3 separate regions of the Homo sapiens genome follow, and regions 1 and 2 are each linked to region 3. The links come from fine-mapping of genetic effects on gene expression. A gene starts in region 3. Each other region holds a variant in brackets. All regions are shown on one strand. Distances are between the middles of the regions.

Region 1 (5,696 bases), 320 kb after region 3:
TTGCTCTCTGTGGGGTGTGGGGCATGGAGTGGCTCCCATGGCCAGGAAGCTCCCCTTAGCTGAGGGCAGTTCTCCAGAGAAGGGAGTGAGCTGTCAGCAGCCCACCCTCACTGCAGCCGGGCGGGTGTACCAGCCCCAAGGAGGGGACTGCACCTGGGAAGTTTGCTTAATTCTTTGGACCTTGCTTTGCTCATGAATCTTTCCAAAGTGAGCATAATAACAGCGCCCACCTCCCAGGGTGGGGCTGACGGACTGTTTAGCACAACAGCTCAGAAAGGGCTTGAGAGTTGTTATTTTTATGATGTTAGGATTGCTTGCAAACTGGGGGTACATGCTAGTTCTTTGAATTGGGTTATCCTTGCTAAGTGTCATGTGCGTGCGTGAGTGTGTGTGCGTGCCTGTGTGTGTGTGTGCCTGCGTGTGTGTATGTGTGTTTAGCTCTCTTTAAGCATCCCAGAGACAAAGTGGTTCTAGATGAGGGATGAGACAGGGTCAAGAAAAAGAAAAGGAAAGCTACCCAGGGTTTGGCAACATTAGACTCCTCTCCAGAGGGAGTTTAGTGGGCCTCTCCCTCACTCATCCTGTCACTGTTGGGGGTTTGGGCTGAATACCCCTCCCCATTTTCCTACCCCATTCCCACCGCTGTTTCCTTCCACTTTTGCCCCTTTCTTGTGATAGTAGCCTCTTGAGGGTGTGAACATAGGTCTCCATGTATGGTCTCCAACCCTAGACCTGGCCATCTCATTTGCCCCAACTCAGGTCATCTGCTTTCACTCCAGGAAGCTCCCTGCAGAGCCAAGTCCCTGGAAGGGCACAGGATTTTCCAGACCCTGCCCTCTGCCACGTTTCCAGTCCTTTGTGATATCACAGCTCTGATCTGTCACTGTCATCCTCAGGGATGGTTATGGCTGCCCCTCCCTACCCCCTACTACTGCCTAAACTGCCCCAAGCCCTTTCAGCATAAGAGAATGGGCCCATACCCTGGCAGGGAGGCAGGGGGCTTGTCTGAAAGCAGGGGCTACTGCTATTCCCAAATTTCTTCTTTCTACTCTCTGGACTTTCAGGAAAAGATACAAGCTATGCAACATTGAAAAGCATGATTCTGGAACTTTCATGAGAGCATGCACATGTGTGGAAAAACTATTAAGATTCCCCAAATCCAAAACCTTTCCCCTAACCCCTGAATCTTCCAGTAAGTTGCTACTTTAGAAAGGAGAACGCAGTATATCTGCACTTCCTACACTCGGGACACCTCCTCGTGCTCTAGAATGCACATACCCTAGTTTGAGAAGCACCTCAAACTGTTTATACTGCTCTATGGTGCCCCCCAAGATCCCCATCCAGCCTCATCCCCCGTTTGGCCTCTCCCCAACCCTGGATTCCGGGCTGCTCCTCCTTCCTTCCAGACTTGGCAGCGTCTTTCCCCCTCTTTCTCACCGTCTAGAAGCAGAGTATGTGTTCACAGCTTCCTGCAGCAGGCATGACCTGGCTCTGCATAGGATCTGTCTCCAGGGCCCTCTAATGGTCAAGGAGAACCAAAGTGAGAGCTCTGGCTTTCATTTTGGTTCTGTGGAGCCCTGGGAGAGCTTGTACCTCTCTGGGAAGAGATTAGCTAGATGGGGGATCCCACGGGCCCCATCCAAATCTAACAGCCTGGGAGCACTGAACAAAGTGGTCCTTGCAACTCGGTTGTCATAGCAACAAAGACACCAAATGGTTCACAAGTGGCAGAGCTGGTTATTTAACTGTCAGCAGGTGGTCAGGAGGTCAGCTATGAAGATGTGGGTCCCTCGATCTACTCAAGAAGTGGACATGGTGAGCCCAGGGTCTAGACCATGGGGTTGGTCAGATATTAGTGCAGTGATGATAATGGCTACTAGTGACCAAATAAGCAGCGTAGGCCAGGCATTGTGCGTGATGCTGCACACTGGATTAATTCACTTCATCGTGCATTCAACACATATTTGTTGACATATGTGTAGCGCCCTGTTCTGGGAGCTGGGGACTTAGAGATAAGTCAAGTTACGCTTACTTCAGTGGGGAAGACAGACAAGTAAGTGGACTTGAGCCACATTGGAGGCAAGCACAGGGTGATCCAGGCTCACAGAGGAAGAAGTGGCCACCAAGCCTGATGGGGCAGAGAGATGGTTTCTCAGAACAGAGGAGCCTGGGCTAAGGTAGGAAGGGTGAGTAGCAGCTGTGCGGGCAAAGTAAGTGGGAGGAGAGGGAAGGGCACTCTGGAGGGATAGACTTGCAGAATGGGTGGGGGGCGAAGTGGGAATATGAATAAATGAATGAATGAATGCAGTCCTGTTTTAGGACTCACTGCCAAGGCAGGGTATGAGAAATGTGATAGAGAATTGAGCACAAGTCAGTTGGTAAAGACTGCATAGGATCTTTACCATCTCTATCTTTAGCACATCTTGAATGTGCTAAGGAGCTCAGTGTTTGATCTGCAAACCTCAGGAAG[C/A]CATGGACAGATTTCACACAATCAGACTTGAATCTAGGAATGAACCCTTCCTCTGCTCTGTGGCGATGGGTGGATGGGGCAGGATTCATGGCAAGGGTGCAGGGAGGCTGTTGCTGTTCACTGAGTAAGGAATGATGGTAACCAAACTCAGGGCAGTGGGGCTGGAGGGTTGGGACTGATTAAGGAGCTAGTTGTGAGCAGACAGAACCAACAGATTCCAGTTATGGCTTGGATGAGGGTTGAAGAAGAGGAGTGAGTCTAAGATGACTCCCAAGTTCCTGACATTGTCAGAAATGGAAAACACAGGAGGAGGAAAGGGCCTCTTGGGAAAGCTGGTGGATTCAGCTTGGGACATGTTGCGCTGGAGGTGCCTGAGAGAATCCAACTGGAAGAGTCTGGTGGGAAACTGGAGAAAATCTGAGGCTGGGGGGAGAGATTTGGAGTCCACAGCACACAGAGAACAGTTGTGGCTGGGGTCATGAACTAGGTGGCCCAGGGAGAGTGATGGGAGCAAAGAGCTAAGGACAGAACACCAGCATTTAGGGATGGGCAGAAAGGTCAGGAGCTGATGATGAGGAGTATGAGCAGGAGTGGCCAGGCAGGCACGAGGGGAGCCAGCAGAGAGCAGCATGGAAGCCACCGGGTGAGTTTCATTATGATGAATTGACAACCACTGGGCAAGGTAGATAGGATTATCCCTTTCTCAGAGATGAAGGAATTGAGGCTCCAGGAGATTAAGAAGCAAAGTTTTCAGCTAATCAGAGGTGGAGCTGTGATTTGAACCCAGGTCTCTGACTTCAAAATCTAATAAGCTGTTTTTACCATACCATGTTTAGCAACACAGGGTTTGGCACAAAGTAGATGATCAATAGATACTTGCTGGATGAAAGGATGGATGGATGCATGGGTACTGTCAGCAGCAAAAAATGCTAAAAATTTTTAACGAACAAGCAGAAAGATCTTGGAGCATGCCTGGAAGCAAGTCCACAGAACGGAAGCAGCTTAGAACTTTTTATAGCATTGCAGACGTGGTGATGACAAAGGCTTGCCTTCCTTCCACTGCTCTGTTAACGATCTTTTAAAGTCCTTTCAGAGCCAGTGTTTTTTTTCCCCTCTTCTTTCCATTCTTGCTTGCAAACGAAAGATGATTTTAGAATCCAGGCCTTCTTTATTTTGCTAAAGTACATGATGAGTAAAATGGCCTCTCAGTCAGCACTTTCCAATTTTGAAAGATGCTAAAAACTGATCTTTAAAAGCATATTTTTCTACTTTATGCATCAAAGGGCCATGAGGCCTGCTGGAGGGGATGGATGAACTGCAGGAAGGTGGCACCACCTGCAAGGCTGGGCCTCACTGTGGAGGGCAGGAAGCGGCTGGGATGGGGAGCAGGTGTTTGGGCCAGGGCCTGGCTGGTCTCCTGGTGGCCGCCCCACCCGTTCTCTTTCAGCCTGTTCTTCTCCATGGGACAGGACGCAGCTGGATCCCAATGCCCCAGAAAGCAACAAAGACCCCATTTACCTGACCCATGAGAGCCTCTGGCTGATGCTCAGTAATTGTCTGTTGAATGAATGAATGAGTCACAGGGGTCACTGTACACATTCCTATTAACCACACTGAGATAATGAATGTAATCCCATGTATAGAGCTTTCAAAAATAGATTTTCCTTAGAAATAAAGGTGGACACTCACTATGTGCTAGGCACTGTGTTAAGCACTTTACAAGGACTATTTCACTTAGTCTTCCCAGAAATCCGGTAAGGAACGTACTACCATTATCCTCATTTTGCAGATGAGGAAACTGGGGCTGAGATGGAAAAGGAGCGACCAGAGGCCACCCATGGTTTGTTGGTAGAGCTGAGATGCGAACAAAGCTCAAAGCAAGTCTGAAACCTCTTAATTGGGAAGCTCTGTAGGCTCCAGGAATTTCTTGAGGGATTAACTATCAGGAAGGTAGAAAGGGCTAGAACACTGTGCAGGGCAGCAGAGTGTGGTTGGCTGGGGTCTTGTCTCTGCCACAAACTCCCCAGGGGCCTTAGAAGCTCCTTTCTCCTCATCTGGCCTCAGTTTTCCTATATGTAAAGTGTGGAAGAAAGTTAGATGATGCTTCCATGGACTGCAGGATTTGCCTGCCCTGGTGGGAGGAGAACAGGGGAGGTTGCAAGGCCCCTGAGAGCAGTCAGCTTTAGCCTCCAGCCTGTACAGACTTGCCCTAGGGCTTGCCCATGAGACCAGGGTGGACTGACTGCAGGAGCCACAGGAAAGCCAGCCCTGGAGAGGGCTAGAGAATCCAGGCTGGGCTGGGGTTGGGGGTGAGGTTCTGCCCTGCCCACCTTCCCAGGCAGAGCTCTGGGCTAAGAGCCAGAGGTGAAGGAATGTTGTCTGCCACAGCCTTGAACCCTTTATGGGGTGCTGAACATCTACTCACCTTCATGATGTGTCCTTCCATCCACAGGGGAATGATGTGCGGATCATCCTTGGCCAGTTTGACCAGAATATGGCAGCAAAAGTGTTCTGTTGTGTAAGTAAAACAGTTGTATCATTCGTGTCTTTGGGGAGGTTCACGAAGCTTTTTCCCATACTCATTATCTCCCTGCTCAGTCTGTGAGTGGGATCACAGGACTGGAGCCTGGGTTCCTGGAAGCAGAAGAGTTGCGTTCACTGTTCTTTCCTCTTTCCAGGGAGCTAAAACCCCAGGGCTCAGAACAATACCATCATCGAGGAACCAGGGACCTCAGTCTAACCCATAGTCTAAGCCTTGTTGGCTAATTCTAAGTCTGCTCAACTTAGCCAGGGAGATACCAGAAATCAGGGTGAGGCTGAAGTGACTCAGACCCCCTCCCTGCCCTGTAGGTAGGGCTCAGAGTCTTAGGTTAGGGACAAATTATCAACTATTGATTTTCTCCTCCTGAATCCTTTACAGCTGTCTAGTGACAGATGACAAAGGTGACCTTTTTATGCCTTATCTCATTTAATCTTTTCAATAACCATGTGAAGCAACTATGATTTTCCCATTTTACAGATGAGGAAATAGAGCTCCATAGAGTAAAGGGACTTGTCCAAGGGCCCTCAGCCAATTCATGGCAGAGCCAAGGCTCCATCCCCATTAACCTGATCCCCAATCTAGTCTCTAAAAAAAAAAGGTTTTCTCCATATGACTTCTAGCTTAAGTTAGATGTAGGGGACAGAACACAGGAACTAAGTCAGTTTCCATTTTGATGTCCCAGCT
Region 2 (5,696 bases), 140 kb after region 3:
ATCCTCCTTGAGCCCTGTTCATAGCAGGAGTACTGACATCTCTTCAGCTCTGAGACCCAGCTAAGGGCTGGCAGTTTGGCCCCACCATGCTGGGCCGCCACCTTGTAGCCTCTCTTCTTGTCTCATCTGTCATGGACTCTCCTGTGTGGGCATCTCACCTCTTTCATCCATCACACCCGAGTCCTGTACTGTAGGTGTGTGAGATCCAGGTGCCGCCCTGCCCTCTGCTACACTGGACTCCTGCAGTGCCTGGAACACAAAAGGTCCTGCGGTGGGGATTTTTTTCTTACCTATTTCTGCCTCTTCCCCCACTCTCAACCCTCACTGCCCACCAGGCACCCAGCACTCAGGGCCCCTAGACCAGGAGCCAGCACTTTGAAGTGAAAATGGACAAGGTGAAGGATCCTATGGCACCCCCAGATGTTCACGTGGCATTCCTGGCTTTCGTGATTGGGTGGGATCTGTTTGTTCAGAGTAATGTTGATGACACCACTGCGATTCCTGGGCTGTGTGGATGGATTTAGTGAAGTCACTTGTAAGAACAAGCAACTGGACATGGGAATCCTGTGGAAGCTTGGATTTCCATGTCATTTAGCTACTCTATCTTAGGCTCCTTTTGTGTTCCAGGCACCATCCTGGGCAGTGGAGTGGAGAACTGCCAAGGGAAGTTTATAAAAACCCCCTGTTCCCTCTCTAGATGATGATGGAGACAGAAATGACCACACAGCCTGAACTGTGCAAGGCTGGAGGAGGGAGTCTCTAACTGTTAAGCAAAGTTTATAAACCATTTCTCCTTCCCTAGAGGATTGATGTGGGGTATGTGGACAGGATTTGCAGTGACTGATGGGCCTCAAACGAGGCTTTGCCCTTAAAAAAAACCATTATCATTTATCTCCTCCTCAACAGGGCTCCTCATGACCTTCAGAGGCAGCAGCTGAAGTGTTAGCAGTGAGCGTAGGTCAGACAAGGGCTTGTGTGTCGAACAGTGCTTTATAGGAAAACCACAGTGATAGTGGCAATTATGCAAGGCTTTCCATGCTCTGTTATGCCCCGTTTATTCAGGATCTTTAGGGCATCAATTGTACTCGGGTGCTTATTTTCAGGGACCTAAAGTTTTCACATTTAAACACCAAAAGTGTTTTCTTTTAGATATTGGCCATCCTGTGTATCTTTCTAAAATCTTTTTATTCCCTGTTTTTTTTTTTCAACTTAGAAAACGTTTTCTCGTACATATTCATGGTAGAAGAAAAACCAAGAAAATACTTATAAAGTATAATAATTTTCTCCCTTCATCTACTCCTCTCAGAGATAAGTCCTGTTCACATTCCACCTTCTAAGATACGGTGATTTTAATTCAGTCTTTTATTGATGACTCAAGATCTTCATCTCAGTCCTCATTAGTTGTCCTCTGCACATGTAGCATTTTCCCCACCATGCACTATGATTCTTGGTATAAAAAGTGCTGCACGAGGCGATTATCTATTTGGCTATTTTATTTTCTTGGTGCCAGCTGGCACTTTCTGTGGCTGTACATAAACCTTATATTCCTTTTGCCTCTCTATATGCACCGGGTCTTCTTGATTCTAAGATGCACATCTTCCCTGGATATTTTAATGTTTCTGAAACCAGGATGTACCTTGCCAGAGGACAAAGGAATAAGTTCTTGTGGACATTGTCACCATCTCCGTGTACATGGGGTTTCATCTATTTCCCACCTCAGTTGCTATGGTCACTTATTTCATTGGAGACTTTACAGTCACTTGAATTTTAACTTACATTTGGATTCCTAAATGATTGCTTATTATGTGTTTTAGAAGATGACACTATAATGAAGTAATACAATTATTGTGAATGTAGAAGATTGCTGTCATGTGCCAGCCAAGATGATTAAAGGCAGTTGAAATTGCCAAATCTCCCAGAATAGATCATAAAATTTTCAGAGTTAAGGGAGGTGGCCGTGACCAACTTTTGTGTCATGAAGGAATATCAAGTGCCCGAAATTATTAAAAGCTTTGGACAGACTTTAAAGATAAACTGTCTAGTTCCCATCAGCAGATAATTTAATTAAAGAAAAGTGAAACAGCAAATAACCAAATAGGAAATTCAGATGAAAGGCCCTTATCTCCTTTATCCTTGGGTTTGCCTGAGAATTGTTCTGTTCATTTGAAAGATGCTGAGGGGTTCAAGGTCTTGCAGTCTGGGTCACAAACAGCAGGGCTTCAGCAGAATGCTGTGCCCATCTGGCCAAGACAGGCACCGACTCAGACGAACCCTGAGAATCTGCATCTGAAGAAGGCTTAGATTCAAACTTTGAGTGTAGTATTGAAGAAGAAAGTGGTTTGAATAAACCTATGCTTTTTGCTGGTCAGTAAAAAATATTTCTGTGTTCTCACTTAAAAGGGAAGTTGTGACACATGCTACAACATGGATGAACCTTGAGGATAT[C/T]ATGCTAAGTGAAATGAGCCAGTTACAAAAAGACAAATACTGTCTGACTTCACTTATATGAGATTTCCTGAGTAGTCACATTCACAGAGACGGGAAGTGGAATGGTGGTCGCCAGGGCTGGGGGAGAGGGGAAATAGGGAGTTGTTTTTTTAAGGGTGTAAAGTTTCAGTTTTGCAAAGACAAAAAGTTCTGGAAATTGGTTGCACAACATTGCGAATGTGCATAACACTACTGAACTGTGCATTTTAAAAAGGTTAAGATGGTAAATTTTATATTATGTATTTTTTCATCACAATTAAAAATTATATTTCTGGGTTCTCTTGGTGAGAGCACCATCATCCACCCAGTTCTACAAACAAGAAACCTTTGATACCTCCTTCATGCCCCCACCCAGTGATCTCCAGACCTTGTAGGTTTTATCTGCTAGTTCTCCAACTCTCTGCTTTTTACCATCTCTTTGATCATAGTCCAAGCTACCATCATCTCGAGACAACAGCGGTGGCCTCTTAACCACAACCTCATGGACTTCTTGCTGTCCTCAAATTCTTTATCCAGAGTGAACTGTTCAAAAGTCTGATTGTATTGGGCCCCCATTTAAAAGCCTTCCTTGATCAGGCAAATGCAGATCAAAACCACATGACATGTCACTTCACACCCACCAGGATGGCTAAAATCCAAAGTCAGATAATAACAAGTGCTGGTGAGGATGTAGAGAGACTGGAACCGTTGTTCATTCCATGTGGGAATGTAAATGGTCTTTGGAAAACAGTCTGGCAGTCGCTTAAATGATTAAACATAGAGTCACCATATGACCCAGCAGTTCCACTCCTAGGTATGTATCCAAGAGAAATGAAAGCATATGTCTACCTAAACACTTGTACATTCATGTTCATAGCAGCATTATTTAGAATAGCCAATAAGGTGGAAAGAATCTAAATGTCCATCAACTGACGAATGGACAAACAAAATGTGGTAGATCTATAAAATAGATAACTGCTTGCCCATAAAAAGGAATGGAGTACTGATGCATGCTACGACATGGATGGGCCTTAAAAACATTAAGTGAAAGAGGAAGCCAGTCACATAAGATCCTGTGGGATTCCATTCGTGTGAAATGTCCAGAATAGGCAAATACATAGACAGAAAGTAGATTAGTAGTTGCTTAGAGATTGGCAGAGAGCGGGAAGTGGGGCGGGGGGGTGGCAGTGGTTGCTAAAGGTATGGGATTATTTTCCTGTTTGTCTTTTTAATGAAAGCAAGATGATGTCTGTTTATTGGTGTCTTTTAAAAAATAGGTCTGGGTATATTTAGGTTGCATTTTCCATTTTTTTAATCATGGTAAAATACACATAACATCAAACTTACCTTCTTAGCCATTTTAAGTGTATGTACAGTTCAGTGGTATTAAATACATTCATAATGTTGTACAGTCATCACCACCACCCATGTCCATAACTCTTTCCATATTGTAAAACTGAACTCTGTATCCATTAAACCATAACTCACCATTCTTCCCACCCTCTAGTCTTGGCAACCACCATTCTACTTTCTGTCTCTACAATATTGACTACTCCAGGTACCTCAGATGAGTAGAATCATACACTGTTTGTCTTTTTGTGACTGACTTCTTTCATTTAATACAACGTCCTCCAGTTTCATCCATGTTGTAGCATATGTCAGAATTTCTTTCCTTTTTAAGCTGAATAATATTCTCTTGTATGTATACACTCCATTTTGCTATTCACTCATCTGTTGACAGGCATGTGAGCTGCTTCCACATTTCAGCTATTCTGAATAATGCTGCTATGAACATGAACACACAAATTTCTGTTTGGAATCTTGCTTTCCATTCTTGCGGGTATATACGTAGAGGTAGAATTGCTGGACCATATGATAATTTTTAGGGGGGAACCGCCATATTGTTTTCCATAGCATCTGTATCATTTTACATTCCCACCAACAGTGCCCAAGGGTTCCAATTTCTCTATGTCCTCATCAACACTTGTTATTTTCTGGACTTTTTTGGTAGTGGCCATTATAATGGATGTTACATAGTATTTGGGTTTTTTTTTTTTGAGGTGACGAAAATGTTCTATAATTGACTGTGGTGATTGTGCATATGTGTGAATATACTAGAAAGTATTGAATTGTACACTTTGAAGGGGTAATTTGTATATGTGAATTATATCTCAATAAACCTGTTTATTTTTTAAAAGCTTTCCATGGCCTACTCTTCCTAGCAGAAAGTCCACAGTCCTTCGGCTGGCCCTTCTGCCTGGCCCTCATCCTCCCCTAGTCCCATCTCAGCTGGAGACTGCACACGTGGCTTGCTGGCATTCTGCCCTTTGCCTGGCTGCATCCTCCCACCCCCGCCCTGGTCGCTTGCTTCGTTCTCCTGGTTGCGTTCTCTTGGTTCTACCTTGTTAAGATTCGAGCTCAAACATTACCTTCTCAAGGAGGCCTTTCCTGACTCCTTGGACTAGATTCCTCATGATGTGTGCTTCTGGTTTCCTGCATGTACATGCCCCATTGACTGTGCCAGCCCCCAGCCCCTGCCCCTAGTCTGTTCTGCATCCTCAATCCCAGCAATAGTCTTCCACATGTATTTGTGGAGTGATGAATCAATAACATCCTAGGTCTTAAGACTTATGGTATTAATGTTCTGCCATTTTCCTAAAATGATTTGAAGCAACATAAAGCAAAACAAAACAACAGCTAATAGGATGACTTATAAAGCTATGTTAATTAAAACATTGTGCTCTAAAACCAAAAAGAGATAGCCAGTCAGTGGAACAGAATAGAAACTCTAGAAGCGTGCCTGAATAAATACAATAATTTAATATATAATAAATTAGAATGTGAAATGATTGAGAAGAACTGAATTTATCAACAAAAGGTATTGAGGATGACTGGTTACATTTAAAAAGTTTAAATGTCAGAACAACCTAATTAAAATGACCAAAGGACTTACATAGACATTTCTCCAAAGAAGATAAACGAATGGCCATTAAGCCCATGCAAAAATGGTCAAGTTCACCAACCTTTAGGGAAATGCAAATCAAAACCACGAGTCACCGCTTTACACCCATTAGGATGGCTTTTATTAAAAAACAAAAAAACACCACAGAAGCAAACAAAATGACAAGTATTGGTGAGGATGTGAAGAAAATGGACCTTTCTGCATTGCTGGTGGTAAAATGGTACAGCCACCATGGAAAACAATATGGCAGTTCCTCAAAAAATTAAACATA
Region 3 (5,696 bases):
CTACTGACCACTCTGAAGTTACATCTCAAAGCCTGGCCCAACAGAGACCCACACAGCTCAGGCTCACCTTTCTCTCTGGCTGGGTAAGAATAACCCAACAGGCCTTGCTGCAGGAATTAGAAGCAGGAGGCATTCACACTCCTTATCATGCTGGGTTTGGCTTAACTTCCAGGGTCAATGCAACAGCAGGATCTACAAGCAAATCCTGAGAGGACACAGGGCAGCTGCGTCACCATGGAGACAGGTTACCATAAGCCCCACAGATTGTCCACAGTGTTTCAAAGAGATATTCACAACCTGCGACAATAAAGGAAGTTGGATCCAGGAAAGAAAAACTACAACCAATCCCTGGATGACTCTCAAAAGCAACCTCTTGAGTACATTCTTGGCAACAGGGAAAGGTGAAAAAACTAAGATTTAAGCACACAGTGTGCTCCCAGGTATTGATGCTTTATTAATTCCTAAGTTGTGTTCTTTCCACTCACTTTTATGTAGAATGCATGGAGACTCACTTTTATGAGTTTCCTATTTCGCAAACGAAGGGAAACCAAGGCTCTGAGAGGCTAAGCAGCTTGCCAGAGATCACAGAAGTGACGAGCAAAAGAACCAGGATTTTATCTCCCCTGGGCTGGATTTAATCTGAAGCTGGGTATAACCTGAAAGCTTCCCCTCCACCTTGCCTCAGCGGGCACCCTCGGGGTTTCGAGGAGCTAAACATGCGTTAGGCTGGTGAGTGGAGGAACTACTATCAATCCCAACAAAGTTTTATTCAAAAAGACTAACAGTGAAAAATGCCTCAGGCAGAAGCATGAGGCTAGGCATGAGGAGATCCCCAAAACAGGGAAGACAGTGGAAACAGTGGGGCAGAGGTGGGGCATCCTCATTCCATCATTCATGGTCTCTCTGGCCAAGGTACCATGGAGCAGGCCCCTAAAATCCTGAGATCAGCATGGTGCCAAGTGGGCCAGAAGGGCCATAGTCCCTCCAGACCAGTCCTACCACATTCCAGCTGAGGGGCCTTGGGTGGGTCACCTATCCTTTCCGAACCTATTTCCACACCTGTAAAGCAGGAATGGCTTGAAGGGGAGAGGAGTGGCAGGTGCCTGGTGCACACGGCAGGCTGCCACCACCAGCTCCAATGGGAACCCCCTCTCTGAGTCCTCTTTTCCTCAAAGTCTGTAAGGAAGGGGCTCAAAAAAGGACTTGGAAGATCCCTGACACTTCGAAGAAAAAGTGAGAGCCCGGGAGGCCCAGCGGCAAAGGTGGCAGCAGCCACCTGTCCTTCCTCCTGCTGCCAGCGTGTGCCCTGGATCCCCACCTAGGCAGGGGCGCAACCTGCCCAGCCAGTAGCTCCAACAGGAACTAGGCCTCTGACCACGCTGGCTCCAGTCCAGCACCACCCACAGGAGTGAGCTGGGGTGGATCACGGCCAGAAGGAGCCCTTCCCACCCCGTGCCCCTTCCCGCCTTCCTCCACCCAAAGCTCAGAAATCCAATGCCCAGGGAGAGCACAAGGAGGCTTTCTAGCGCTGAGGGGGCCTTACAGCCATCTTTCGCTTCACCTGTGGGGCGCTCCCTCGCATCTTGTTTGTCCCTTAGGCCCTGGCACACACAGAGAATGAATGGAGCCGGTCACCGCCCGGAGGAGTTGTCAGTTTCGCGGAGGCACTGCGAGGCGGGCAGAGCGGGGTTGTCCTTTGGGTGCTGGGGGGTCCTCGCCTTAAACCCTTCTGCTTAGCCCTGACCCTCACCTTTTCAGGGAGATGATAACTTCTCAAGGAGAAGGGAGCTAAGAGATCACTAACAGACTTGCCAATTTCTGGTAATTTTTTTTCTACTTTCGTCTTTTTTACTTTCTTGCCTCCCCGCCCCCATGTGAGCTCTTACACTATCGTCTTCGGAGAAAGACTCAATAAGACGCGCCATCCTGGAGACCCCAGCTCCCCGCCCTGCCACTGCTCTGATGGAGAAACTGAGGCCCGGGGCTCTGAGGGCGGGCTTCCTCCCCAGAGCTGTGCACTCACAGCGGGTTCCAGCGCTCGGGCAGGCGGCGGTGCAGTGAGATGCGGTCGCTGAGGTAGATGTTAATCTGGTGCAGCCGCACGCTCTCCTCCTGCAGCCGCAGCTCCTCGCCCTGCAGCTGCAGCCGCACCGCCTCGCCCCGCGCGCCCAGCGCGTTCGCCGGCACCGGCGGCCGCGGCATGACCGGCTCGCGCCGCCCGGGGCGCGGGGTGCGCGGGGGTCCCGGCTCGGCAGCCCCGGCCCCGGCCCCACGCTGCGCCCGCAGCACCGAGCCCAGCCCGGCCAACGCCAGTAGCGCCAGGAGCACCAACAGCGCCTCCCGGCCGCGCCGCAGTTCCCGCGGGCAGCGCCGCCGCGCCGTGCGCCCCCACATGCGCCCGCCAACTGCAGCCAGCGATCTGCGCGCCCCAAGGCGGCGGTGGAGGCCAGGACCCGGATCCCGGAACCGCCGTGCCGCCCCGCCCCCGGCCCGCCCCACCTGCGCGCCGCCCCCTTTCCGTCCAGCCCCGCGCCAGCCCAAGCGCAGCCCCCGGGGTGGCTCATTTCGGCAGGGTCTTCAAGTGGGCTGGCTGAGACTTGCATCTTCCTTCTTGGGCTATGGTGCATTATTAAAGAGATAGTGGTGGTAAAACCCTTAGCGCCTGGCATATTGTAGGCGCTAAGTGTTGGCTGAATACACCCTGCAGGGTGTTATGAATTCTACTGCCATTATCTCATCTGATCTTTACACAGTCCAATAAAACAACCATCAACTAGGATTACGAGCTCCCTTTTACAGATGAGGAGATGGAGGTGCGATGAGATCAACAGACACCACGCTGCCCCACTGACTTCTGCAGGCCCAGCCTCTGCCATACTCTTTGGAGTCCTTGAATAGCAAACCCTCGCCTGGCTCGCCTCGTGATAGCTCTGTGACCTCTGAGGCTAGGAGCAAAAGGCCATGAAGGCTGTACATGATAGTTCACACCTGTAATCCCAGGCCGAGATAGGAGGATCACTTGAAGCCAGGAGCTTAAAACGAGACTGGTCAACATAGCAAGACTCCCATCTCTACAGAAAAATTTCAGAATTAGCCATGCATGGTGGCACGTGCCTATAGTGCCAGCTACTCAGGATGCTGAAGCAGGAGGATTGTGTGAGCCCAGGAATTGGAGGTTACCGTGAACTATGCGCCACTGCGCTGCAGCCTGGATGACAAAGCGAGATCCTGTTTCTATTAAACAACAACCAAAAAAGGCCATGAAGCTGCCGCCCTGTTCATGAGATCACTGCTGTGGGAGCCTTGAGCTGCCAGGGACGAAGTAAGTCTAATGGAGTAGACAAATATTAAAAAGATAATTAGAATTGTGTTAAGTATTTTGAAGAAGAATTACAGGGCGCTAAAAGGGCTTAGAATAGTAGAACTTGATCTAGTTTGGGGGTTTTGGAAAGCTTCTCTGATGAAGTAATGTCTACACAGATATCTGAATGTAAAAGTGATAGCAGAGATTTCAAATCATATCTTAAATTAATCTGGAACTCCCTCTGCTGGTGTCTAGCTCAGGGAAAAGAATCATTCTGTATCCCCTGTAGAAGGATAGAGTGTAAGCTCTATTTGTTGTTGTTTGTTTTACCATGGGAAGTTGGTCCAAAGCTTTTTATCAAATATTCTCAAGGAGACCAGAAGCCCAGAAAGTTTAAAAAGCACAAATCTGGTCCAATTATCTCATTGATAAATGCGGGGTCTGAGACACAGGGTGGGGAGAGGACCTTGAACTTGGCGGCTCAGGTAGAGGTAGAATCTGACTTGCTGTTGTCTTCATACAGCCTTTGGCTACTGGTATCCCCAGAGGAAATCTCCCTCAGGTTGCAGGAGGGGGGTGGGTTTTGGGATGAACCATGCAAAGCAGCTCCCACTCAGGACAACCTGCTGCTAATATTAGACTAGAGGGAAGTGGCTCTTCCCACAGTGCTCAGGGCCCCGCCTGCTTCCCACGCAGAATGGAGGCTGCTGGTTAATGCCAGAAGGCGGTTGTGTTAGGTAGGTCTGGACCTGAGCCCTTTGGCCTCTGTTCAGACACCCAACACATTTAAGATCTGCGGTCAGATTAGAAAACAGACAAGGATTACAATTCATAATGTCTTGGATCCGCTTGCCAAATTGGAATGCTTCTCAATAGAGGTTCAGATACAGAGAAAAGAGAAATGCAATTAGGCCTTACAAGACATGGACTTAAGCCCCAGGTAACAGATAAAAGCTATTGTTTACTGAGCACACACTGTGTGCTGTAAACTGCTGGACTTTCTTTTTCATGTACTTTCTCATTTCACCCTATGACAACCTTGCAAGGTTGACAGATGAGAATATGTAGGCTCAAGAAGTGAAGCAACTTGCCCAAGGTTACACAACATGCAAGCGGTAGAGGGAGGATTTGTATCTGGGTCTCCTGACTCACAGTCCAGGATTTCCCACCACACCACTCACTGTTGGGCAGGCTGCAATGAGATGCAAAGGCAGCTTAGCTTAGGAGGTCGGAACACAACCTTGGAGCCCACTTGCCTGAGCTCAACCCAGCCCCATCACGAATTGCAGTGTGACCTCAGGCAAGTTGCTTTACTTATCTCGGCTCAATTTGCTCATCTATTAAATGGTGATCTAATGATAGCACCACCTGAACAGGGTTGTTGAGAAGATTGAGTGATACAGTCTGCACAGTCAGCCTCCCGGGGCACAAAACAGAGTGGAGAGAGTGTCAGTAAGGCAAAGGGAAGATGTCCAGCACCTTGCTGAGTGAAGTATGATATTTAGACCAGAAGCATTGGTACCACCTGGGAGCTTGTTGGAAATCTAGCATCTTTTCAACAGAGGTAAAGCCCTTGGGTTTATTGCTATTTTTAGGGGGCTTATCTGTTCACTAACAGTACCATGTTATGTCATCGGCTGCTCACCAACAAGTAGATATCTCTAGAAGATGCTTTTAATTTGTCATATTAGCTCTCTTCATAGGAGTTATTACATTCCTTTTAGAGTTTAATATGATCTATGGTAGATGTGGTATTTCAAATATTAGTGGGGAACATGTGCCTAATTCAAGTAATAATTGGGACAACTTGATAACCATTTGGAAAAAATTCAAATCAAGTCCCAACATCACACTTTACATCAAAATAAATTCCAAATGATCTGAAGATGCCACAGTAAATAAGCAAAAAAAGGAAGGAAGGAAGGAAGGGAAGGGAAGGAATTTAATTATAAAAGTATTGAATGAGAAAAACCAGAGACCATATGGAAAATATTTCTAAATGTGACTATATAAAAATTTTGAATTCTGTAAGGCTTCCAGTATAATACAAAGTCCAGAAACAAAAGGCAAGTCAGAAAGAGATATTTGCAGATGACATTTACCCAGTATGTGAATCAATAGGGAAATAAAGAGAACAAACAGAAATAAAAATGGTCAAAGGATTTAAATAGACAGTTCCCACCCAAAAGGATATAAATAGTTTATAAAAGTATGAAAATATGCTCGATCTCTCTAAAATACATACAAAATAAACCTACCCTGAAATATTTTTTCACCTATCAGACTGGCAAAAATGAAAATGGCTATTAATTCCAGTGTTGGCAAGGATGTGAAAAAACACTCTCATCCACTGTTGGTAGGAATGCAAACTAGTATAACCTTTTGGAAAGCA

Evidence for each region. PIP is the estimated chance that this variant, and not a neighbour inherited with it, causes the effect. A credible set is the group of variants that fine-mapping cannot tell apart.
Region 1: its variant is the best candidate, but not a certain one, in a credible set for the expression of GALNT12 in whole blood (TOPMed, PIP 0.82).
Region 2: its variant is the best candidate, but not a certain one, in a credible set for the expression of GALNT12 in cerebellar hemisphere (GTEx, PIP 0.57).

Annotation. Positions count from the first base shown.
Region 1 is chr9:98,480,224-98,485,919 of GRCh38, reverse strand. It overlaps GABBR2 (gamma-aminobutyric acid type B receptor subunit 2), which reads left to right. Exons shown (of 19, transcript NM_005458.8): 5 at 4,923-4,988. Among named protein-coding and RNA genes, the nearest start is that of GABBR2, 230 kb to the left of the region's middle. The variant C/A (reference allele first, on the strand shown) is at 2,471.
Region 2 is chr9:98,669,095-98,674,790 of GRCh38, reverse strand. The region is part of intron 1 of GABBR2 (gamma-aminobutyric acid type B receptor subunit 2); the gene reads left to right. Among named protein-coding and RNA genes, the nearest start is that of GABBR2, 37 kb to the left of the region's middle. The variant C/T (reference allele first, on the strand shown) is at 2,446.
Region 3 is chr9:98,804,397-98,810,092 of GRCh38, reverse strand. GALNT12 (polypeptide N-acetylgalactosaminyltransferase 12) reads right to left here and starts at 2,423. Exons shown (of 10, transcript NM_024642.5): 1 at 2,024-2,423. The coding sequence starts at 2,394. LOC124902229 (a long non-coding RNA gene) reads left to right here and starts at 2,513. Exons shown (of 2, transcript XR_007061689.1): 1 at 2,513-3,322. RefSeq lists silencers at 2,282-2,351, 2,452-2,541.